Regions from separate parts of the Homo sapiens genome. Here regions 1, 2, 3, 4 and 5 are each linked to region 6. Evidence: fine-mapped expression QTL. A gene starts in region 6. Each other region holds a variant in brackets. All regions are shown on one strand. Distances are from middle to middle. Region 1 overlaps LYRM4 (LYR motif containing 4). Region 2 overlaps LYRM4 (LYR motif containing 4). Region 3 overlaps LYRM4 (LYR motif containing 4). Region 4 overlaps LYRM4 (LYR motif containing 4). Region 5 overlaps PPP1R3G (protein phosphatase 1 regulatory subunit 3G). Region 6 holds the start of LYRM4 (LYR motif containing 4).

Region 1 (4,088 bases), 130 kb before region 6:
ATAACTGTACAATCATCAACACTATTTAGTTCTGGAAATTTTCATCACCCCCAAAAGGAAACCCCATACTCATTAAGCAGCCCCTCCCTGTTTTCTTATTTTCCCAGCCTCTGGCAACCACTAATCTATGTTCTGTTTCTATGGGTTTCCGTAGACATGCAGATGAAATCATATAATATGTGGCTTTTGTGTCAGGCTTCTTTCATTTACCGCAGTGTTTTCAAGGTTCATCCAGGTTGTAAACACGCATGAGTACTTTGTGACTTCTAAGGATGAATAATATTCCATTGCGTGGAAATACCACATATTGTTGACCCTTTCCTCAGCTGAAGGATATTTGGGTTGTTTCCATCTTTTGGCTATTGAAAATAGTGCTGCTGTGAACATACGAATACAAGACTGTGTCTGAACCTGTTTCCATTCTTTTGGAGTGAAATTGCTGGGTCATATGGTAATTCTATGTTTAACTTATTGAGGAAGTGACAAGCTGCTTTCCACACATGTCAGGATTTTACAAGCTTCCCAGGTGAGTGTAATGTCTGGCCAAGGCTAAGAACCTAGTTGGTTAAGATAGAGCTTTCAGTTTTTATGTAAGATAAGCAAGAAAACCAAGATAAAATCAGCAAAATCCAGACAAAAGAACTGACTTCTTCAGCAAATAAATTATAAGGAAAAAGAAGAGCAAGGAAGAAAAAAAGATACAGATGGGGCCTATAGATTTCTTTTAAAGACAGATTACAGACAGATCACCCAGTTTGAAGATTGGTGATATTTGTGAGACATTAAAATTTAAACACTTTGTATTTGATGATATTAAGGAATTAGCATTATTTTGTTAGTTATGATAACGGTATCATAGCTATGTTTTAAAAAGAATCATCTTTTCAGATATGTACCAAAATAGTTTAATATGAAAACGAATACACAGTTTCTCAAAACAATACGGGAGAGCATGGGTAGGCGTAAGGATGAAAAATACCATCTATTGATATTACAGAGTATCTAACTCTTAAAGATGGGTGATGGATACACAGGACTCATTTGACAATTCTACATACTTTTGTATATTTTCACATTTTTCCATAATAACAGGTTAAACAGCAAAAAGTCTTCGTCATTGCAACTAACAAATTGGGGAAAATGTCATCAAATGTCTATTTAAGAGATCTCATCCCTATTCCTTCTCCTTCCTCTCCCTTGGTAACGGCACTCCTAGGGCTGTGGAGGGTGCGGTTCACTCCTGGGACTGTGGAGGGTGCGGATCACTCCCGGGACTGTGGAGGGTGCGGATCGCTCCCGGGGCTGTGGAGGGTGCGGATCGCTCCCGGGGCTGTGGAGGGTGCGGATCGCTCCCGGGGCTGTGGAGGGTGCGGATCGCTCCCGGGACTGTGGAGGGTGCGGTTCACTCCCGGGACTGTGGAGGGTGCGGATCGCTCCCGGGACTGTGGAGGGTGCGGATCGCTCCCGGGGCTGTGGAGGGTGCGGTTCTCTCCCGGGGCTGTGGAGGGTGCGGTTCACTCCCGGGGCTGTGGAGGGTGCGGTTCACTCCCGGGGCTGTGGAGGGTGCGGTTCACTCCCGGGACTGTGGAGGGTGCGGATCGCTCCTGGGGCTGTGGAGGGTGCGGTTCACTCCCGGGACTGTGGAGGGTGCGGATCGCTCCCGGGACTGTGGAGGGTGCGGATCGCTCCCGGGGCTGTGGAGGGTGCGGTTCTCTCCCGGGGCTGTGGAGGGTGCGGTTCACTCCCGGGGCTGTGGAGGGTGCGGTTCACTCCCGGGACTGTGGAGGGTGCGGATCGCTCCTGGGGCTGTGGAGGGTGCGGTTCACTCCCGGGACTGTGGAGGGTGCGGATCGCTCCTGGGGCTGTGGAGGGTGCGGATCGCTCCAGGTGTGATTTTCATGGGAATGGAACTGGCTCCCTAGGTGGTGTTCATTTCCTCTGGATGCCTCAGGCCTGTCTCCTCCAAAGACGAGAACTTTCTTTTAAGTTTTCCTGCTAAATATACTCAAAAAAGCTTTCTAGCTCTAGACTTTCAAACACACACAATACTGATGTGTATGTGTGTGTGTTAAATACACAAAACACAACATTTATCATTTTATTCATTTTAAGTGTACAGCTCTGTGGCATTAAGTACATTCACATTGTTGTACAACCATCAACAGCATCCTTCTCCAGAATCTTTTCATTTTCCTCCACTGAAACCCTGTAGCCATTAAACACTAACTCTCCATTCTCCCTCCCCTCCAGTCCTTGGCAACCGCAATTCTACTTTCCGTCTGTAGGGGGACTCTAGGGACC[G/C]CCGTAAGTGGAATCATACAGCATTTGTTTCTTCTATGGCTTATTTCACTTAGGACAATGTCGTCAAGGTTCACCCTTGCTGTGGCGTGTGGCGGAATTTCCTTCCTCTTTAGGGCTGAGTAACATTCCATTGTACGGCTGTACCACATTTTGTTCATCCAGGCGTCTGTTGAGGGACACTGGGTTGCTGTTGTGAATAATACTGCTCTGAACACTGGTGGGCAAGTATCCTTTTGAGTCCCTGCTTTCAGTTCTCTGGGGTATATACTGAGAAATGGAATCACTAGATCATTTGGTCATTCTATTCAATACTTTTAAAACCAAATCAGTATTCTTCTAAATGATAACTTGTCCCCTTTCCTGCTGCCTTTTTGACTGGGGCTGGGTTGAGGGTGGAGAAGCGGGAAGACACGATAATGTAGTACTTAAGAGCCTGGGGTTTGTCCCAAGACAAACCTGGTTTAAACACCTGCTCTGCCAATCACTGGCTCCGAAACCTTGGGTTTCACCTAACCCTGTAGTCTCAGTTTCCTTACCTACAGAATGGGATAATGTCAATTTTACATAAGTTAGATGGTATTTATAATGTCTTACTACAATGCCTGGCACACAGCTTTCAATTAATGGCTTCTAGTAATCGATTACTTCCATTTCAACAATCCCAGGTGTTGTCAAAGAAGGTGGCATTTACAAATGAGTCCCACAGGTCCTAGCCACAGTCTGTGGTAATGACATGCTAAACCGCCCCAAGGAGCAGCGCCTGTAGGAAGACTGGGTAGACTTCCTTCCTTTCCTGTGGCAGAGGGCTCCGCACAGAAGAAACTCTGGTCTCTTCCTGATGTCTCTTAACAGCTTTATGGAGATATAATTCATACACCATCAAATCTATCCAATTAAAGTGTACAATTCAATGGTTTTTAGTATATTCACAGTTGTGCATCCATTACCACAATCAATTTTAGAGCATTTTCATTACCCCCAAGGAAACACTACTCATTAGTCGCCTTTCAAATGTCCCATCCTCTCTAGCCCCTGGCAACCGCTAACCCACTTTCTGTCTCGATGCATTTGCCTATTTTGGCCATTTCACAGAAACGAAATCACACAATGCGTGACTTTTTGTGTCTGGCTTCTTTCCCGTAGCATAATGTTCTCAAGGGCCATCCGTGTTCTAGCATGTATCAGTACTTGGTTCCGTTTTACCACCAATAATATTTTTATTGTATGGCTATACCACATGTTGCTCATCCATTTATTATCTGATGGCCATCTGGGTTGTTTCCACTTTTTGGCTATTGCTAATAAGGTTTCAATAAATATTTGCATATAAGTCTTTGTGTGGACACGTTTTCATTTCTCTTGAGTATACATGTAGGGGTGGGATTGCTGGATCACACTACCTCTTCTTTTTAAGCCCCAACATAGAATGGTTGCTTCTAGGACCTGTCAAGAGATTCTCAGACAAGCAAAAACCAAGCTCCTGGAGTTGGCCCCACTCCTCCACTTAGTGAGAAGCTTACAAAGGTGTTCAGATTTGTACTCTGTAATCTCACTGCATTGATACTGAACATCTTCTTTGAGCTCAGTTCCTCCTCACAGAGGAACTCTAGTGTCCTTTAAATAATGACTCTGCTACCCGGCTAGTGATATGCCTCTATCTGTATTTAAGATCATTTCCCCTGAATGATGGAGATTTTAATATTCTGCATCTAATGTCCTGTGACTCTATCTGAATAATTAAAACCACCCAGTTGATTGTTGCCCTATTCTCAAAGACAGGATTCCTG
Region 2 (4,088 bases), 130 kb before region 6:
ACAGGTTAAAAAGTCACTAAATATTTCGCAATTACAGCCCCAATACTGTCTAGACTTGTGCTACTCCATTGGACATGTGGCTGTTTAGCACTTGAAATATGGCTGGTCCAAACAGAGATGTTCTATAAAGTATAAAATACAGACTGGGTTTCAAAGACTTAGTAAGAAAAAAAGGAAAATATGTTAATTTTTTTGTATTGCTTAAATGACAATCTTTTAAATATACTGGGTTAAAGAAATTGTTATTAGAATTAATTTTGCCTGTTCTTTTTTGCTTTTTAAAATGTGGCAACTAGACAATTACACATATAGCTTGCATTTATAGCTTACGTGATTTTTCTAATAGACAATGTGATCTGTATCATCCTTTTTTCATTTTTATTTATTTTTAGTGGGTTTTTTAAAACCTGTGATAAAAACAACATTGTTACATTACAATTTACCATTTTTAACCCTTGCTTTTAATTTTGAAATAAATATACATTCACAGGAAGTTGCAAAAAATAGTAGAGAGAGGGTCCCTGTACCCTTCACCCTATTTCCTCCAATGGAGACATCCTGCCGAATTATAGGATAGTATGAAACCCAGAAATTGACATTTACACCATCCTTTACAATTTTTTTGGTGGTAGACAAATCAGCACCTGGACGAGGAAGAGTCTGGGCAGGCAATGGGAGAGGGTGTCTTACAGTTGTTGATTTCTCTATAAAGCAAACTTGGTTCTGCTTGGATTAATAAAAATTAAGTGAAAATCCCAATTTAGGTTTCTTACTGTCTGCAGAGAAATATTTTATAGAAGCTGCCATAGTGAAGAGGACTGCAGTGATGACATTTATATCCTGGAAGCAGGGCACCCATCACCGCTCACACACCCTGCTCCCAGCTGTACACAGGGGTGATATGGAGTTGCAAAATAAGAATGCCCTGTGGCCTCGTAGATACAAATTGCGTCCCTAGCTCACCCCTCACTCAGGAGTAAATGGAACTACTGGGCTTCATAGTGGTGGAGTACATCTCTTTGAAGAAAGTCAAAGTGACAAGGCTGCCTGGCTGACAGATGGCAGATAAAAAGGAGCCACCTTTAACTTCTTCCTCTTCAGGGAAGGAAATCATATCTGGAGATTTCAGTGCCCCTTGAGAGGAAGTGACAGTCACAAATACGTGCATTTGGAGAAGATGCTTCCCTCCTCTTTTCCCTCCTCATAACTATTTTGTGAACATGTCTCTTGAACCCTCTTACTGTTCTTTTGGTTTCCTCTTTGTCCACACTTCGATGTTCCCACAGGACTCTGGATATGAACTACTACATGGGGTATGACCAAGCTCATCAATCTTGCTTTTATTTACATTTTTTTGTGTGAGGCCCCATGTCACCTGCATGACTAGGTGATGCCGCCAGCACCTGGAGGGAGCAGATGCTACCAGCAGAGAAGGGCCTGGGGCTTCTCTTGGGCAGCCAGTGCTTGGGCCTATGCCCTTCAAAGGCTTGACTTTGCCTCTCCAGAGCTTCTGATGTGCTCCTTACATATGCGCTTGCTCAAAAAACTGCTCAATCCCCCAAAGGACTTCTCTCCACGTGTGCACTGTCCCTGAGGGCTTAGAGGCTGCGAGCGGCCACAACCCTGCCTGCACCCCAGCTATGCTTCCAGGCCATCAGTGGCCACTGCACTTGATGGTGTGATCTTCGGACTGCGTCTACCTGCTCCCGCACTCAGCTGGGAATATGGGAAATAGTGGCATTGGGCTCGCGGGCTGCCCTGAGACAACCCAGGTTTCTCCAAAGGATTACCCTGTGTGTTAGCTTCCTAATGCTGCAGTCAAAAATTACCCCCAAACAGGTGGCTTTGAACAACACAAGTTTATTCTCTTACAGTTATGGAGGCCAGAAGTCAAAAATCAGTTTCACTGGGTGAAAGTCAAGGTGTTGTCAGGGCTGGCTTCTTCCCGAGGCTCTGGGGAAAATCTGTTTCCTTGTCTTTTCCAGCTTGTATGGCCTCCTGCGTTGCTTAGCCTGGGGTGCCTGCTTCATCCTCGAAGCAGCCGCTCTGATCTCTGCTTCTGCCACTTTCTCTCTCTGTGCAATCAAACCTCCCTCTGCCTTCCTCTTAGAAGAATAGTTGTGATTACAGTAGGGCCAATGTGGATAACCAAGGCTGATCTCCATCTTAAGGTCCTCATTTGATCATACCTGTGAAGTCCCTTTTGCCATCAAATGTAACATTCACAGGTCTCGGGGATTAGGATGTGGACGCCTTTGGGGGCCATTATTCAGCCTACCAGATCTTCCTTTATGGCTTTGTTGAAAACAATTATTTTTAAAAATGTAATGTATCTTACTGTGGAAAATGTGAAAATGTAGGACCTAGGACCATCCTTACTCCACCAGCCACACTGAAGGGAGGGAGAAGCGAGAGCGCAAAGCAGCCCAACAGGCCAAGTCAGAGAGATTCGTGCTGAGGTGAAGCAGGGGTATGGACGGGTGGGAAGGCAGCTGTGCTGCAGAAGTCTTCATTCAAAGTTGGTAAGTACTTGGAATATGCTTTTCTTA[C/T]AGATTATGTTCTAAATATGGATTAGATTCCCAGCTCTGGCTACAAAAACTAATTAAATCTGAAATCTTTTTCATTAAGAGGTACTAGAGAGAGGAATTCTGGAACTGTGGAGCCCTGAATAGACTATGCTTCCCCTGTTCCCACCCCAGCGCTGGGGGAGACACTGGTGTGAGTGAGGTCTTGGGCCTGGGCGTGGGCTGCAGGGGGAGTTCATGAGAGCTTTCCTCCTGGTGGACCATGCAGGGCCTGGAGGCCAACGCTGGGATTCTGGGATTAGTGGGCCTGGAGGAGACGTGTGAGCCCTGGGAATCTGGCTGTCACTGCCTCCCAAGTGAGCTTTATCTGCCAAGCAGGGGCTAGAGAGCAAGGCTGTTGCTCCCTGTTCGTCAGGCTGGCATTGCACAGGGGACCTGGGAACAGGGAGACTGGCAGCTGCCGCCACTGCTGCCCCACTGGTCCTCCGGAGCAGGGAGCCACTCACGTTTACCACCTGCAGAACTGTAGGCACATGGGGTGCTGTAACAAGCAGACCTGGGCCCCAGTGAGACGACAAAGAAATATTGCCTAAGGGAATCCAGGAGCCAGACAGAAAAACCTGAAACAAATGGCTGCTTCTAAAACTGCTGAGGAGAGGAAGACAACAAGTGGTACACAGCAAGAGCACTCAGAGACTCGGGAAAAACAACTAGTCAGCAATAAACTTCTTTATGAAATTTATGTCTAGGGAAACAGGTCTTGGTGGGAAAAACTGGTATCCTCTTATACATAATAGTAAAAAATATATGCTTCTAATTATAAACATTGGGCTACAGAAGACAGTCATTAAGGGCACAGAAAAGTAGAATGGAATTTCCAAACTGACAAAAGAGAGATAAACAGGGAATGAATAGTCACTTGATAAAAACCATTAAAAATAAGGAAAAGAGAGAACCAACTAAAATACATAATAACATAAGACAGAATAAAATCAACTCCATCAGCCATAATATGAAATGTGAATGGACTAACTGGGAAAGGTAACAAAACAAGATGAAAACCCTTTAAACAAAAGTGGTAAAGGAAGACTGAAAATCAAGGGATGAGTTAAGATATACCGGGTATATATGCGGGGGAAAATTCTAGTTTATATTAATATTTGACAAGGCAGAATTGAGTCTAAAACCTTCAAACTAAATAATGAGCAACATTTACAGACAGGATGCGGCAGTCATAAAGCTGTAAGCACTAAATAAGACTGTAGCGAAGTATATAAAACCTGAATTATTAGAAATAAAAGGAGAAACTGACAAAGGCAAAATGATGGTGGGGAGCTTTGATATTCCTCTTAAAAAGGTAATCACAGAGAATTTGAATAATACAATGGACAAACTAAATACACACACATGTATCTCAGAGAATACATGAAAAAAATTTGTGTCTGGCTGGGTGCAATGGCTCACGCCTGTAATCCCAGCAGTTTGGGAGGTAAAGGCAGGAGGATCACTTGAGGCCAGGAGTTTGAGACCAACTTGGCCAACATAGCAACACCTCATCTCTTA
Region 3 (4,088 bases), 23 kb before region 6:
AACAGCACCACTGCACTCCAGCCTGGGCGACAGAGTGAGACTCCATCTAAAAAAAAAGGAAAAAAAAAAAGTGTTAGATAAAATTTTCTGAAACCAAAGTTTTCATTTTTGGTACATGTTAAGTGGCTCCTAACTCAAACTAACCCTACAGACTTACAGTTTATAAATTATTTGAAGATCTCATCTGAATATTATTTTGTTTAAAAGAGATGGTCTGTTATAATAATCCCTCTAAAAAAATCTCTAAGGGGGCCAAGCGCAGTAGCTCACATCTGTAATCCCAGCATTTTGGGAGGCCAAGGCGGGAGGATTGCTTGAGCCCAGGAGTTCAAGACCAGCCTGAGCAACACAGTGAGACCCTGTCTCTAAAAAAAAAAAAAAAAAATTAAAAATTAGCTGGGTGTGGTGCTGCATGCCTGTAGCCCCAGCTATTTGGGAGCCTGAGGTGGGTGGATCACTTGAGCCCAGGAGGTCGAGGTTGCAGTGGGCTGTGATTATGCCACTGCATTCCAGCCAGAGTGACAGTGAGACCCTGTCTCTTAAAAAGACAATCTCTAAGGAACAGAACAGAAGGGCTTTGAATTGCAGTGGGTTCAAAGTTCTTAGGGGTCTTTGACTCTGTCCGTGGGAAATCCCTCAAGGTAAAGAATTGGCTTTCTACTCAGTCTAGAGCTTGTATGGGAGTGTAACTTCACATCCACTGGTGTTTAAAACAGGGGTCCCCAAACCCTTGTCTGTGGCCTATCAGGAACTGGGCTGCACAGCAGCAGATGAGCGAAGCTTCATCTGTATTTATAGCCACTCCCCATCGCTCACAATACCACCTGAGCTCCACCTCCTGTCAGATCAGTGGTGGCATTAGATTCTCATAGGAGCACAAACCCTATTGTGAACTGCGCATGCGAAGGATCTAGGTTGTGCACTCCCTATGAGAATCTAACGCCTGAAGATCTGTCCCTGTCTCCCATCATCCCCAGAGGGACCCATCTAGTTGCAGGAAAACAAGCTCAGCGCTCCCACTGATTCTATATTATGGTGAGTTTCATAATTATTTCATTATATAGTACAATGTAATAAACAGAAATAAGTACACAATAAATGTAATGTGCTTGAATTATCCTGAAACCATCCCCCACAACCCCAGTCCGTGGAATAATTGTCTTCCATGAAACCAGTCCCTGGTGCCAAAAAGGTTGGGGACCACTGGTTTAAAATGTATGAAAAGTTGGGGTGAACTGAGCACTACTTATGAAGGATTGCCTAAAAGACAAGCCCTGTATCTACTCTTCTAGATATGCTAAGCTGTGTCTGTTGGATGTGCCAAGGACCTGCAATTTTGGTTACCTGCAAAATGCTTTCCTACTGTGGCCTTGTGCTACCAGCCAACGTGACAGGATGCCAGAAGCACAGGCCCTTTGAAACTGTTGTACTTATGCTGAGGATGCTGCCCTTCATTGAAAGAGCATAAGAGAATGTCTTCCGCTTTAGCACCAGAAAGAGTTACAATTCTTCTAAGAAAGTGGCTGCTTCGGTATCACAGACACTCTGACTCACATTACTAATCATGGTCCTCTCCCTGCATAGGCTGCTGGGAAGCTCAGAACCAGACCTGAGGCCGTGCTCCTGGCTGCTTACTGTCCTGCCTTCTAACCACCCTTTTGCTTGGAAACCTCATCCCAGGACTTATTTTGGTTTTCCTATTCTTATTTTCCTGATTTTTCTTACTTAACACACCCACAAACAATTCTGATCTGTGGTTAAAA[A/G]TATATCGAAATTCAGAATAAAATTAAATGCAACTTGTTTTCAAATAAACTATGGGAGTATAAACTATATACTGAGAGACATGATAGGGTTCTAAAATTTCTTACTGAGAATTTGGAACAACAATGTTAAATGATGGTAAGGTTCACAGGGCAGTCCAAGTAAATTTAATTTAACCATGCTGCAGCAAAATGACAGTGTTAAGAGAAGTCACTCCCAGCGTAATTCTATACTCATGTTAAAAAAGAAATTCTTATTAGAGGATTTGTGTTTAAAGAGACATCATTGATTATCTGAATTTGTATAGGCACTGGATATATTAAGTCAACTAACAAATCATAAGCATTTAAATAGGAGTAAGTCCAGGGGCCTTGTAAATAACCCATAGTTTATTCAGTCAGTTGACTTGTTCTTTTTTCCTTACATAAACAAGTAACAGGGTGATTTAATTCAGTGAGAGTGGTGAAGTGAATACAGATCTGTGAAGAACAATAAAATGTTAATTTTATGATCCTGTTTATTTTGCTGAAGTTTCTACATGATAGGAAACAAATGCAAATTTTGACCCAGGGTCAGTCCTTACTATTTCCAGCAGCAGAAAATGAATCTACTAGGATACCTGAATTTTATAAGCAAATCCAACCTATTTCATATAAACATAATAAGGTCTTGGACACAGTTATTCATAGTCCGAGACTATTAACTGGGCTCTCATTCAGCATTTATGCATTTGAAATCTACCTAGTCAAATTTTCTTGACAAAATGTTAGCCTCTAAAGGAAGAATTCTGCTTCTGATAACCCATTATGCTACTTTTACACGCATGTGTTAAGCAAGCAGCAGAATCAGATTTGGAATTTAGAAAGATATTCTTTCCGGTGGCAATAGGCAGGATGCCTGGCAGAGCAAAGAACAGGAGGTAGATAGACCCGGAGGGGGCTGTACAAAATGCAGACAGAAACTGATGAACCAACAAAAAGCAATCAACTCGTGAGACATAAAGAAGGTCCGGCAAGGGAAATAAGTGAGAGAACCTGCTGGGCATAAGGACCTACTGACTACGGTAAAGTAAGGGGAGAAAGTGAAGTGACTTCCAGCTTGCACAAGGAAATACTGGGATGATGAGAGGCAATGCTGGAGTGTTGAGTTTGCCTGAAGGATTAGGTTGGGGATGGGTTAGGGATGATGTGGAGTTTTAGTTTAGATACGAGGTGTTGGTAGCATAACCAGAAAATGCCCAGGAGGCCCCTGGAAAGGACAAATGGAGGGGAATCACTAGAGCACACAAGGTTGGAGCCATGAGTTGTGGGCATCTAGGGAGGGTGTGGGAAGGTCAAGATGGAGTGCAAGGGGCCTCCAATGTCAAGCGGAGCCAAGAGAGGAGCAGACAAGGAGAAGGTGGTGTCCCGCACGCTAGGGAAGGAAGAAAGAAGCTGGAGACTGGTTAATTGGGCCAAAGATACAATGAAGGAAAGTGACAAGAAGGAAGGTGGCAGGCCAGACTGCAGCAGAGTGAGGAGTGAGGGCAGCTGACAGCCGGGAGAGTGCACAGACCATTCCCACCAGCTGCAGGCTGTCAGGGTATCACTGACTTCCTAATCGGCACAGGCCACATTGGTCTTTTCCCAAGGCTCTTCCAGACCTGCAGAATCTGGGTTTCTGCTCTATGAGGGTCCCTGAGCATAGGCCCTTAAAAACATTCTCACCACCCCCATAGGGAACAGTACCTGGCCATGGCGCAGAACAAGTGCATGAGAGGACAGAGAGAGAAGGGAAGCTGATGCCCCCGGCAGGGATGCTCATGCTGCCTGCCGCAGCCAATCAGGTGGAACCCAGGGCCTGTGGTCTAGGATCTTTCCTTCCATTAAGGTAAACAGGGCAAAATAAGACTCAAAACACCACAGGCTTCGAAGACATCACCTTTCAGTACTCCACCTAGCTCTGCCAAACCTAGCCTCAGCTGTATCCTATTGCTGAAAACTCTCCTTACAGTACATCCAACCTTTCCAGGCCTTCTCTACGTCTGCTTGTTCCCTGACTCACTCTGGTAAAATCTCACCTCCTATCTTTCCTTTCTCTTCATTTTTTCTGCCATCCATTATTACTACTCTGCAGAAGTATTTACATTAACACTACTCCCCCTCCTCTGCTGACACTTTGGAATATGGCATGTACCCAAGTTAATTTATTTTCAATGTATAAAACTGTACCCTTTGTGATAATATTACCTTAGGATACTCAAACACAATACAAAAATATTTACTTAAGAAATCTAAAACAATAGCAGCTGGGAGAAATATCTATTAAAATACCAACTGTGAAATGAC
Region 4 (4,088 bases), 150 kb before region 6:
TCCTCTGGAGCTGTTATCTTGCCGGCAATTTGATGCCTTCAGCACGGAGGTTCAAATCTGGACTTCGGTTCCAAGTAGCAGTTGCTTAAATTAAGTATAAATCAGCAGTGCCGTGCGTTAGTAGCGTGGTTGGATGCATTCACTGCTGAGTGACCACGAACTCCACTGCACTGATGCAAGGTGGAAAACCTGAGCCAGAGCCACACACAGGGCTGGGCTGGGCGGCTCTGCCCCGTGACAGTCAGCTGAAGGGAGTGATTATACTTGCCACATCACCTCCGTTCACTGTCCACCGAACAGCTCTCCCCCAATTAGGGCTTTGCATATGCTCTAACACTGCAGCTCCCAGGCAGGAACTGGTTAGAGGGTAAGAGATCTGGGACTTGCTAAGAGCTTCATTATTTTCACAGATGCTCAGGACTTTATCCTGAAATTGGCAGGGGGTGGTGGTTCATGCCTGTAATACCAGCACTTTGGGGGGCCGAGGAGTTCAAGACCAGCCTGGCCAACATAGTGAAACCCCGTCTCTATTAAAAATACAAAAAATTAGCTGGGCGTGGTGGCAGGCCCCTGTAATCCCAGCTACTCGGGAGGCTGAGGCAGGAGAATGGCTTGAACCCAGGAGGTGGAGGTTGCAGTGAGCCAAGATCGCACCGCTGCACTCCAGCCTGGGTGACAGAGCGAGACTCCATCTCAAAAAAAAAGACTTTATCCTGAAATCAAAAGTTGTACTGCCAAATAGAATGGCTACACGTTACATCTATTTGAACGCATCATTGCAGCAAATCTATGCTCTCTAAAAGCGACTGGAAGACATGAGTTCTCATATGAGGGTGAGAAGAACACGGGCTCAGACAGTGCGTACTCACTCCCATGACCGTCGGAGTTAAAATGAGGGGGTGACAGTGCTGCAGCTATTCCAGGACCGGTGCTATTTATAGGAGCCTGTTCCAAACCTTAACCCACAGATACCAAATCCACTGAGCACTGTATGCAAAGGGAAACAAGAAACCGCTCTGCCAGGTCTGGTCCCTCGTAAACTCCCCAGATGACAAGCAAGTTATTTAATATGTTCTTTCTATGTTTGGAATGAATCTGTTTCCAAGAATAAAAGCATACAAACAATATCTTTATTACCTGTAATATACTTAAAGAGCAGGGGTCCCCAGTTGGTTAAACATTGAAAACAGTGGGAGAGCTTCAGAATAGAGAAAAATGACTGTGCCTCACCCCTCACTTACTGAGTCAGAATCTGCAGAGAGGGAAGTGCTGAGAGATGTCTTTTTAAAAAGCTCTCCAACTCTCCAGGTGCTTCTGTCCACCAGCCAGATTTGGGCACCGGTGCTGCCCAGCATGCCCCAGGCTTCAGGGTATGGGAGTCGCCCTGGGCTTGGGTCAGGCTGGGGCTCTCTCATTCACCAGGTGTGGGGAGGGGCTTGAGCCTGCATTTCCAGCAAATTCCCAGGTGGGGCTGAGGTTGCTGATCTGCAGTGCTCCATCTCTGGGTGTGTACCTACACACCCGTCACCTTTGTTGTACTGGGCTCAGGTATAAGTTGCAGGGTGCACCGTGTATCCCCGTAGCCCTGCCCTACTCCATGCTGCCCCCAGTCTCAAGTGGTGCTTGAACTTGCCTTCACCAAGGCAGTTCTCGTCTCAGAGTTGAACCCTCCCTGAGGGCCCCCAACAGCCCTCTCCAGGCCTTGTATCAGTAGGAAATGAAAATGCATTAATTGGGAGGGGTTTATCTGGGGTCAAAGGCTCAGGGAGATCATTCTTTTTATTGCCAAGGACCAAGAAACAAAGTGTAGAAATGCTATACACAATGGTCATGAGCTACAAGGTAGGAATGGGGTGCAGGGGAGACGTGGTAACACACAGCACTATTCTGAACGAACTCCAGCTCTCCATTCTAACACTTGAACCAAGGAAAGACAGCAGTCCTTTTTCACTAAGCCTGCAACAGAATGCAAATGTGACTTGGTTTATCAGCTCCCACAGGACAGGCAGCGCAAAAGGCTATTGTAAGCTGGTTTTGGGAGCCCCCA[T/G]CTCAAACAGAGAGTGGATGCTGAAGGTGGTCCCTGGCCGCCACTGGTGGCTGGTCCCCGGCTTGCTAGGTCCTGGGCATGTCTCGATTCTCAATGATCAGCTTGTCAGTTGAATACAGTTGGCCAATGTGGACCTGAAGGCAAAGAAAGGACACAGGTCAGGAACCGTGGCCCTCTAGCCCCTGGGAAAGGCCAGAAGGAACATTTCCTAACATTTCTAATACAAACGTCGGCCATCCCAGGGCTGCTCCCTTCCGGCAACTGCACTGCGGGGCAAAGCCGGCCACTAGAGCACCATCCAACCCCCGTTTCCCTCACTGTGAGAAGTTACAGAGATCCACACACCCATTCCTCCCCTCTGAAACAGCACAGGAGGCTGCAGCCTGGGACTCGGGGCTGTGCTGAGCTGGGTGACGCCTGCCTGCTGGTGGCAGAGCTGTCAGATGTGTGCCCAGTACCTCCTCTCCTAAGAGGGCTTCCTTCCCTTAGAACTGATTCTCGCATAGGGAAGGGGTTTTAGAACAGTGCAGAAATGGGCGCCGTCTATGCTGGGGTAGGAAAAGCGCTGCATTCAGGGCAATGCAGACACCTGTCCGTGGCCCATCCCGGGTGGGGTCGAGGGCAGTTGTCTGAGTGCCTGCACCTCCTGCCTTCTATCTTTCCTGCCCCCTTCTTTTTAAAGTGTCCTTTTTATTAAGTGTCTTAATGCCCAATGTTTCCACTGTCCCAGGTGGATGCTGGAGCCATCCTCTGGGGCTAGAGCAGGTCTTTCCTCTGCAACAAAGGGTCTTGCCACAGTTTTTCTGTAAAGCATTTCCTGAGTGATACATTTTTAAGAACAAGTGGAATGGGTGAAGGAAGGGCTGATCATTAGCAACTCTATCTGGATTTCAGACCAGTTGGTCACTATCTATGGGTAATTCGGGGTGAGTAACTGCTGTTTAAGCAAACAGAGCAGCCAGGGGTCAACATCCTCATGGTTTTCCTCCCCGATCTTAGTGCTCTATTTCGAAGTGAAGGCCCCGGACAGAAGGCGATCATGTCATTACTACAGCATGTGTTAAAGAGCAGTGCTCTGTCACCAAGGACCGCCGCGCCGTCCATCTGAGGTGTCCTGTTTTCCATGCCATTTGCTCGGTCTTCAGTCTGCCCTTGCACAGAGGTATCTTGAAGGTCCGTGGCATGGATAATAACTAAGTGTTGCGGTGCAAGAGAAAGCGAAGGAAGAGGCGAGAGCAGCACGTCATCTAAGAAGAACGAGAAGTAGACAGTGGAGATATGGGGGATGGGGGGATCTTGCAGGTATTTTTAAATGCAAGTGAATGTCCTAATTAAAAACCAAAAGAGGTAGGTAGGAGTTATGGGAAGGGGGTGTAGAGAATGAGTGCTCCTAACAAGTCACAGTGATGAGCTTTGCTACTGTGTCTTCAGTCGTCCTTTCCTCTCATTAATATAGAGAAGACTTTGGACGCAAGTGGATGGGGAGGGTCTGGGGTGCTGCGTTTCTCGCAACCTGCAGGTAATGCTGATGCTGCTGGTCCACGGGCCACACTTTAGGTGGCAAGGTCGGAAATCATCTTGAGGGCTGTGAGGAGCCGCACTGGTTTTCTCAGGGGCTACGGTACAGTCACGATGAATGCAGCACAGGGACTTTCTGGCCTTCCCTTCTGGACAACCTGAAATAGCTGCTGGGTGAGCTGAAGCCATCTATACCCTACTACAGAGAAGGGGAGGATTGGCATTGTCCTCCACCCTGAATAGTACATGGTTTTGTTTTCATATATTAACCTCAACAGATAGATGAACCCACTATCAAATGATATTGAGAAAAGAAAGGCTAGAATACCAATGATCCTTAAAAAAAAGGGAACCATTACTTTTTGGATAATTAAAACTAGGCTAATACAAACAGTTTTGTATAACAGCTGGGATGGTTCAGCTACCTGGGAGCTTGTTCTGTATTTAATTGATCTCAGGGGATTCACCAGGAACCTGTCCTAGAAGTGTCCACAATCGGACATTCACGAGTACTTGACAGAGT
Region 5 (4,088 bases), 170 kb before region 6:
AGGGGATGGGGGATGGGAAAGTGGCTTTCTGTTCCTCTCAGAGCCACAGTGGGGAGTGGTGACTTGATGGAAGAGGAGGCATGCCCAGCGAGTCAGTGCTGCGCAGACGCAGATGGCCACCTCTGCAGGCCCGTTGGGTGGGGTATGGACGGCCTTGGTCGCTGTGCTGGCTGTGGATGCCAGGATGATGTGGCCCTCTGTGCATGGGTGGGCAGGAGGGCATCCCGAGTAAGGTCTGTCGCCCCTTGACTCTGCCTCAGTGATTTCCCTTTTTTTAAGTCTTCCCATTTTCCAGCACATGGCGAGTACAGTCAGTCGTTTTAGGGATGGTAGTCTCTAAGGAGGGACAGTTTCACTGTTGCTTGATAGAACAGGGCTGGGCATACGTACATTTGGCCCATGGGCCAAATTTGGCACACAGCTTATTCTTGTAGGGCCTGTGACCTAAGAATAGTTTTTACATTTTTATTTTTAATTTAATTTTCTTATTATTATTTTTCGAGACGGAGTTTCACTCTTGTCGCCCAGGCTGGAGTGCAATGTGCGATCTTGGCTCATTGCAACCTCCGCCTCCCAGGTTCAAGCGATTCTCCTGCCTCAGCCTCCAGAGTAGTTGGGAGTACAGGCATCTGCCACCACACCTGGCTAATTTTTGTATTTTTGGTAGAGACAGGGTTTCACCATGTTGGCCAGGCTAGTCTTGAACTCCTGACCTCAGGTGATCCACCCGCCTTGGCCTCCCAAAGTGCTAGGATTATAGGCGTGAGCCACCTCACCTGGCCTTACATTTTTAAATTGTTGAAAAAAATTCAAAAGAAAGTACTATTTGGTGGCACGTGAGAATTATATAAAATATATATTTCAGTGTTCACAAATCAGGTTTTACTGGAACACAGCCGTGCACACTCATTTCTGTCTTCTCTGTGCTGCTTCCATGCTACCGCAGCAGAGTGGAGTAGACACAGCAGAGACCAGATGGCAAAGTGTAAAATATTTACTATCTGGCCCTTTTACAAAAGGCTGGCCAACCCCTGCTCTAGGGAAGTAGTGTTTTTTAAACACAATATGCTGACAATTATAGTTAATAAAGCATTTAGACTTTAGTGAGCTTTTGCCACTTGAAATAAACCCCCTTTGGGTAAAGGTAAAGCTTTATATGACTCTCAGTAATCTTGTTTAGAATAAACACGAAAATGTGAAAAGTGCGGTTATCATTGTGTCAGGCAGGGGAATCTACCTGTTGCCTTCTTTCACCTAAAAAAATAGTAACACATCAGTGCAACTGAAACATAGCACCCGTTTGAATTGGCTTCAAACTACAAAGCTGCCAGATATTTCTCTGTGCTTCAAAATGTGGCATCTTACACAATGGAAGTATTTAGTTTGAACTTTGGGTTGGAGATATCCCTTTGACTATGGCAGTGTTTCCCAAAGTAAACTGATCATAGGAAAAAAATAATTTATTGACAGCAAGCCATCAGGAGTTAACATATTACAATTTAGACTTTTAAAAATGGTCAATGGTCATATCAATGAACTAATGAATACTTAATTCATATATGCTTATAAAAACTTTGACGAAAAATAAATGATAAAATGAAACAATTTTTCTGTTACTAAATATAAAAGCTATGAAGCCTTCTGATGCATCATCAGGTAATCTTGGTCTGATATACCATTTCTTAAAAGTACATTATTGCATAACCATATTTTTCCGATATATTTATAAATACATTAATTTTTAAGATATTGACAGTATACATATGCTATAACATTGTTTGAAAATGCTTGTTTGTGGGGCAATAAAGCAACATTTTGAATTGTTTTGAATTACTTAAAATTAAATGAGGAGCCCAATATAATGATTCAAACAGAGATCTTTGTGTCTAGTATCCTTTAAAATGGTAACCCATTAAATCTGGACTCAAACAAGAGAAATAGATTTTTAGTGGTATGTACAGAAGACTTTCTATTCTGTCATAACACCATTACTGATTTTCAAAACTATATTTTAAAGTTCAAATGATTCATTTTAAAAGAAACTATTTCATAATATAATGAGCATCCAGTATGGCTGCTAGGAAAGGAAACCTAGTTTTGCTCTCCTCCCAGTCTCAGAGACTAGTGCGTCAAATGTTCATAATTTGGTAAAATATTTTAAACAGCCCAGTATTTCACCAATGTGTGTAGCCTTTCCAAAGCATTAGCACTGGCAATCTTTTGAATGTCCATTTTGTTTTATAAAAGTGCCAACTTCTCATTGTAGACTAATAGCAAACATTATGCAGTGAAATGTAAAGGTAATAAAAATAGGTTTTCTTTGTTTTTGAAAAGTTATTTCAAAGGAAAGGGCAATACGACCAGAGTGAGGAAGTATTTAAGAGTGTATTTCCTGAAAGGAAGACACACACACACACACACACACACACCACACACACACCACAAACAAAATCCCTGCAATGCAGTCAGTGCTTTTTTGCAGCAATATTTGCTTCAACTTGAGTAAGTGAA[G/A]GTCATTCTCCTTAAAAATGCAATAACTTTAACACGTTACCTAGCACTAGTGATAAAAACTAAGTTCTCAGCTGAGTTAATGACCCTGTCCTCCACCAGAGAGGGAGTCTAGTTTCTTCCTTATTGGCAAGTGTGTCCATGGATCACTGGGTGAGGGAATGTTGGATGAAATGTGTCCCTATCTAGAGCTTCAGAAACATGGGCTGGGAATGTGGCAGTTTGTATGAAACAATATTCTCCCCGGGAAGCTTCCGGTTTATGAAGCAAGGTGGTCAGCCAGTTCCAAGACTTAACTAGGGAGGGTAGGATCCTGCTCCAGGAAGTGTACGGTGGACTCTGGAAACCCACTGAGCTCTGGAGACACTGGAAGTCTCTGTCCAGGGCAGCAAGAGCCACGGCTCAGGCAGCCTTTCAGGAGCAACTGGGAATGGGGGTAGTTGCTGTTATCCACAAACCTCAGCTGTAGGGGCAGGGGATTTTCTCCTCTCAGGTGTGCGGTGGGCTTTCCATTCTGACCGTCCCCTCATGCAGTGTCCTTTCTTCTGCCTTGACCGAGGGGTGAGGGCTTCCCTGGAATGCTGTGGCTCTTGAGCCTGTCCACAAGGAGGCCGCCCACAGCCTTCCTGCTCAGTTCATTTTAGGAGCATTAGTGTCGGATTCTTCATACGTCATTTCACAGGTTTCCATATTTCAGCTTTCTAGCACAACGGTTTCTATTTTAGTAGGCTAAGATCTTTCATTCCCCTACTCAGTTCTGTGTTTCTTTGGAGCACTGTGGCTTGGAGCCTTGTGGGGCAGAGTGATTGGTGCCATGTGTTCTTTATCAGGAGTGTAAGGAACAGCCCTAGAGAGGAAATGTGATTTCTTTTTTTTTATTAATGGCATCATGGAACTGAATCAAACTTGCATTTTTGGTTCACACAATAGGACCCAGGTTTGTAGATTAAAAGAATATGCTGTGACTTGTGGAAACTCAACTGGCAACACGGATTATTTGCAGTCCAGCGTTTGTCCAGCCAGTCCCCAAGATGCCAGGACCCGATGGACTCCTGGAATCAGGGATGTGCTGCCTGAAGTCACTAAGGCAAGGGGCTGGGAACAGCTGACAATCCGGGCTCATTGCAGTGTCCCGGCCTCCCCTCCTACAGAGTGGTCCTGGCTGTCTTGAGTGTAAGTGGGCAGGTGCTTGGAAACCTGGGACACACTGTTTTTTGCTTCCAGACCACAAAATAGACACCTTCCACCTTGTGAACTGTTGTGTTCCTCTTTGGACTCCCTTTAGCTGATCAGGGAGGTGACATCAGAACGCAGCGGTCACTGATCCTTAAATCCTTCAAGGTCTGATTGTCAGAGTGCTAAATACCGTAACTTCAGGCGCATTCAGATTTCAACTCTTTTGAATCTTTTTGGTAGACATTGCATTTGCTTTTTGTGAAGTTTAGTTCTTTGACTTTGGTTAACTGTGAACAGGAAACTTTTGGAAAGAACAGAGGCACATGTCAGCTAAATGAAGATGTTTGAGATGGCAAAGATCAAGGGCTTCCTTTTAAGATTTGCTGGTGAGATTTTCCTACTGA
Region 6 (4,088 bases):
GAGTAAGCTTTAATGACAAACTATTTTACTCCAGACTATGGTGAAATCAAATGGTTTCTATTTATTTAACTTGCATATTTCATGTGTTTCCTCAACAGACTTGGTTAAGTACTTGGTGCTAGGTGTTTGGTTAATTCTTGCTAAAATTCCACCAGTATGCTTATTATTACACTCTTTATTCTCCAAAGTCAAAGTCATTAAGTAAAATCATTCTCTCCCGTGAAATTTAACCACTTAACTGGGTGGATACAACCTCAGTGGTATGACCCAGATGCTGTTTTCAAATTTGCAGCATGAGTATATTTTCCAGGCGGGTTTCTAAAAATTTGAGAGTCATTGCTTAAGAGGCTTAGCGTTCCTGTCCTCTGACAGAGGTTGTACTGGGCAGACCCATCTCAGGGCCTGCCAGCTCACACACGTGCTGGAGGGGGGCCTACCTAACCAGGTGTGTTCCAAGGGTAGGCTCTGCTCTTATGACATCCAATCCACAGTCTGGCCAGTCACCTAAGTGAGGCTTGAGGTAAAGAGATGAGTTGATCCAACCAGATTCTTTCTCATGGGAATATGGCTCAAACTCAGAGAGAGACAGGTAGTTAGTAAAAACAAAACAAAACAAAAAACAAATCTAAAAAAAAATGCAGAGAGAGAATCCATAAGAAAATGATGGGTCAGAACCAGCAACACTGTGAAAGCAGAGGCTCTGAATTAGAAAAAACATACAAAGAGTAACAATAAAAGACTCATAGGCAAATAGGGGAGTGGGGAGGCGTGAGAAAAAGTGAATGTGTTATATTAAAGATGTGAGTTTAGGCCCTCAATATCCTGCTGTCAAGGTCCAGTAAGCGGGATCTCTGTCTGGTGAGCCAGGAGAAACTGAGGTTTCAGCTCCAAAGCTTGTGAGACCCTTTTTCCTTTTCCGCTACGCATTTCCACCATACCCTAAATAGAATGGATTCTTGCAACCAAAAGAACTCATTACGACACCTAGGAAATTTTAGGGAGGTGCTAGAGTGTGCCTTCAGCTTTGTCGCAGTGTACTACTCACTGGCCACTTCCACTCTCAACTCTTCCAGTGCTCAAGGGAAGTTTTACATATGCAACACACTGGCCTTAACTTCACAAATGACTGATTTCCATCCCTTTTTTCTCTTCTGCAGAAACATAACACTAATCATGCTCCTAGAATAACTACCAAGATAGCCTTTAGGGGGAAAACGTCACAAGACATGAACGTCTCCCCTGGTAGAAAGAAAGGCTCCTCCCCGAGGTCTCAGAGGCCACACCTGTAGGCAGGAGCACGCTTTTCGATGGCGGAGCCCGGTCCTTGCCTCGCAGCCGCCGGCAAACCACGGTGGCTCCCAGTCCCCGGGGATATTCCGCGTCAGCCCGCACCCCCGGTCCCCGGCCCCTGGCCCCCCGCCCCCGGCCCCCGGTGCCCGCTGGGTCACCTGTAATTGTAGGCGCTGAAACGCTTGCTCTCTCTCAGCATCGCCCGGTACAGAGATAACACTTGTGCGCGACTGGAGGCTGCCATTTTGGAAAGAAAAAAAAATAAACGGGTCCTCTTCGCCGAGGTCCCAAGTACGACCCAACCCACGAAACTCCAGCCTGTGCGGAAACCACGAACGAAATAAAATGCTGCGGCTCGGCTTTGCCAGCGGGCCGGGCCTAAGCCTAAGCGGGCAGCCCTGCGGATCGCGGACGGCGCCAGGCGTCCCGCGCCGCTTCGGGGGCGGGCGCAGGCAGGGCTCGGGGCAGCTAAGGGGGCGGTGCTGGGAGGGAGATGCCTCCGCCCCGCCCCGATCCCGCCCCCGCCCGGAGGCTCGGGACCCAGCAGCCGCTCCACGCGGCGGGAGGGCGGGGAAATAAGAGGACTGGCCGCCCGTGCATCCAGCCAAGCTCCTGGCGGACGGATATCGGAGGCCCAGGCATTCGAGGGACGTGCAGTTGCATCACGGAGAGCCTTTGGGAACCGTCTGGGGTCTTGGCGGAGACATTTGTGTTTCGGGGGCAGCGCCCCTTCCTACATCCAGGAGGCCGCGTTGCCCGGGTTACCGAAGGCCGCCGCACCGACGCCCCGCCCCTGACCGCCGATGCCCCTCCCACGCCGGCTGCGGTCGCCCTCGGCGCTGCCTGAGAGAGTTTGCGGGATTTCAAGGGTGACTTGATTTCGCCTGATCCTGGTCGGCAGGGTGGGGTTTCTTGGCATTCCTCAGGCCGGGGGATGCGACGTCTGGGTGTGGAGGTGATGAGCTAGGGGTTCTGTGGCACTCCGGCTCTGCTCAGGGCGACCTGCGTAGGGGCCTCTGGGGCAGGCCCGCTTTCTGTCAAAATGGCAGCGCCCAGCGTGCGCGGGTATCTCTGAAGTTGGGGTTTAAGATTCTTGCCCGTGAGAGCGAACGAGCCTGCCGTACTTCTGATTTTGAAACACCTGGGTCTGGGCTTCCCGGGCGAGCGGTGGGTGAGTGCCGGCCTCATTGCAGCCTGGGGTACGACGTGGGCGGTTGGTGTTGTAGGGGGTTTACATTGGCCGTGGATTTTTTCCTCTTTCCGGATGTGTTTTTGCTTTTGAGTGAAGAGTTCCCGTGGTTTTGTAACCTAATAAATGCATAAAATGCAGCTTGGGTTGTAGACTTTGGAGAATAATTAGAGACCTTTAGGGCTTTAGGCTTTCTCCAAGAAGCGGAGCAAGTTTTCAACCATGGCTTTCTTCAGAAGACTGCAGCTTTTTTGAATCATCTTATTAAAGTGGTGGATAAAGTTGCTTGTTCTGATCTTTGAGCATGGCACTGGACGCAGGAAGCTTCAGCCAGTCCTAGTTACTGTGTTTGCAAAGCACTTTTCTTGTTTTTGGAATCTTGCTTTATGTAATCAACCTTAGGAAGAACCACACCTTTCTGCACTCAAGCACAGCGAGAAGTACGTTATGCGTGAAAACAAAACAACTTTGCATTAAAATCCATCTTTCTCCGAACCACTTGGTCACGGTTGTGTTCTCATCTGCTTTAGTGTATTTGGTTTTGAAACGATATACCTGCTGTATGTCTAAACAACTTTATATTTTCAGGAACTTTTCTGTTTCCTTTTCTTTTTTTTGAGATGGAGTCTCGCTCTGTCGCCCAGGCTGGAGTGCAGTGGCGGGATCTCGGGCTCACTGCAACCTATGCCTCCCAGGTTCAAGCCATTCTCCTGCCTCAGCCTCCTGAGTGGCTGGGATTACAGGCGCGCGCTACCTCGCCCAGCTAATTTTTGTATTTTTAGTAGAGACAGGGTTTCACCATGTTGGTCAGGCTGGTCTCGAACTCCTGACCTCAGGCAATCCGCCCGCCTCGGCCTCCCAAAATGCTGGGATTACAGGTGTGAGTCATCACGCCCAGCCTCTATTTTCAGGAACTTTAAAGGCAGAAAAAACACTTCTCTGACCTTACCATTCTTTAGTGTACTTGCAACCTGGTGTCCTTGCATCCAGATATTCTTACTAATCCTGATGCAATGACATTTTTTAAAAGGCACTGAAGAGAAAATACTTTTATTAAGATATCTTTAAGTCTCCTCCCTGATTTCTTGAAAATCTCATGTCTGTTATTGTTTATTATTATTTTTTAAACAGGATAGCAAAACTTCTATTACTTCCTGGTTGGTCAGGTCATTGAGCAAATCTAGCCTCTGCTTTATTGAAAGGACTTTTTTGAGTTTTCCCTTTGCTATTTCTTAAAGGATCCAAGACCAAGGCAATTGCACATTGTTATAGAGTAAGATTCAGAGCTGATTTCTCTTGATACACTATTGTGTGCCAGTGATATGAAATGATATGCGGCACCTCAAAGCTACAACATTAATGCAAGTTACTGATAGAGAATGCTATCAGAGTGAAAAGGAAAAACTTGAAGATTATTTTGGCTTTTTTAAAAATAGCAAAGATTACATTATTTTATTATATTTTGCTTTTGAGAGTAAAGTTGGAATAATTACTATATACAATTGTTTCTACCTAATTATCAAGGAATTTAATCATTAACGTACATAATTAATGTATCTAAATTACTCAACTTTGTTGTAATCAAATAAAACTTTTCCAAATAAATATG

Evidence for each region.
Region 1: its variant is fine-mapped to the expression of LYRM4 in whole blood (TOPMed, PIP above 0.99). The same link has a PIP of 0.9 or more in monocytes and monocytes after LPS.
Region 2: its variant is fine-mapped to the expression of LYRM4 in whole blood (INTERVAL, PIP 0.95).
Region 3: its variant is fine-mapped to the expression of LYRM4 in whole blood (TOPMed, PIP above 0.99).
Region 4: its variant is fine-mapped to the expression of LYRM4 in whole blood (TOPMed, PIP above 0.99).
Region 5: its variant is fine-mapped to the expression of LYRM4 in visceral fat (GTEx, PIP above 0.99).

Annotation. Positions count from the first base shown.
Region 1 is chr6:5,133,681-5,137,768 of GRCh38, forward strand. All of the region lies in intron 2 of LYRM4 (LYR motif containing 4), which reads right to left. All of the region lies in intron 3 of LYRM4-AS1 (LYRM4 antisense RNA 1), which reads left to right. Among named protein-coding and RNA genes, the nearest start is that of MIR3691, 13 kb to the right of the region's middle. The variant G/C (reference allele first, on the strand shown) is at 2,302.
Region 2 is chr6:5,127,449-5,131,536 of GRCh38, forward strand. The region is part of intron 2 of LYRM4 (LYR motif containing 4); the gene reads right to left. All of the region lies in intron 3 of LYRM4-AS1 (LYRM4 antisense RNA 1), which reads left to right. Among named protein-coding and RNA genes, the nearest start is that of MIR3691, 19 kb to the right of the region's middle. RefSeq lists an enhancer at 2,388-2,974. The variant C/T (reference allele first, on the strand shown) is at 2,550.
Region 3 is chr6:5,236,416-5,240,503 of GRCh38, forward strand. All of the region lies in intron 1 of LYRM4 (LYR motif containing 4), which reads right to left. LYRM4-AS1 (LYRM4 antisense RNA 1) reads left to right here. Exons shown (of 4, transcript NR_126015.1): 4 at 1,293-4,081. It overlaps LOC124901249 (a long non-coding RNA gene), which reads right to left. Exons shown (of 2, transcript XR_007059423.1): 2 at 2,136-4,088. Among named protein-coding and RNA genes, the nearest start is that of LYRM4, 22 kb to the right of the region's middle. The variant A/G (reference allele first, on the strand shown) is at 1,764.
Region 4 is chr6:5,107,311-5,111,398 of GRCh38, forward strand. LYRM4 (LYR motif containing 4) reads right to left here. Exons shown (of 3, transcript NM_020408.6): 3 at 1,109-2,181. The coding sequence ends at 2,113. All of the region lies in intron 3 of LYRM4-AS1 (LYRM4 antisense RNA 1), which reads left to right. Among named protein-coding and RNA genes, the nearest start is that of PPP1R3G, 24 kb to the left of the region's middle. The variant T/G (reference allele first, on the strand shown) is at 2,048.
Region 5 is chr6:5,087,613-5,091,700 of GRCh38, forward strand. PPP1R3G (protein phosphatase 1 regulatory subunit 3G) reads left to right here. Exons shown (of 1, transcript NM_001145115.3): 1 at 1-1,875. All of the region lies in intron 3 of LYRM4-AS1 (LYRM4 antisense RNA 1), which reads left to right. It also overlaps a transcript of LYRM4 not described here. Among named protein-coding and RNA genes, the nearest start is that of PPP1R3G, 4.3 kb to the left of the region's middle. The variant G/A (reference allele first, on the strand shown) is at 2,512.
Region 6 is chr6:5,259,200-5,263,287 of GRCh38, forward strand. It overlaps LYRM4 (LYR motif containing 4), which reads right to left and starts at 1,751. Exons shown (of 3, transcript NM_020408.6): 1 at 1,449-1,751. The coding sequence starts at 1,534. FARS2 (phenylalanyl-tRNA synthetase 2, mitochondrial) reads left to right here and starts at 2,314. Exons shown (of 7, transcript NM_006567.5): 1 at 2,314-2,461. RefSeq lists an enhancer at 982-1,031 and silencers at 1,242-1,551, 1,612-1,831.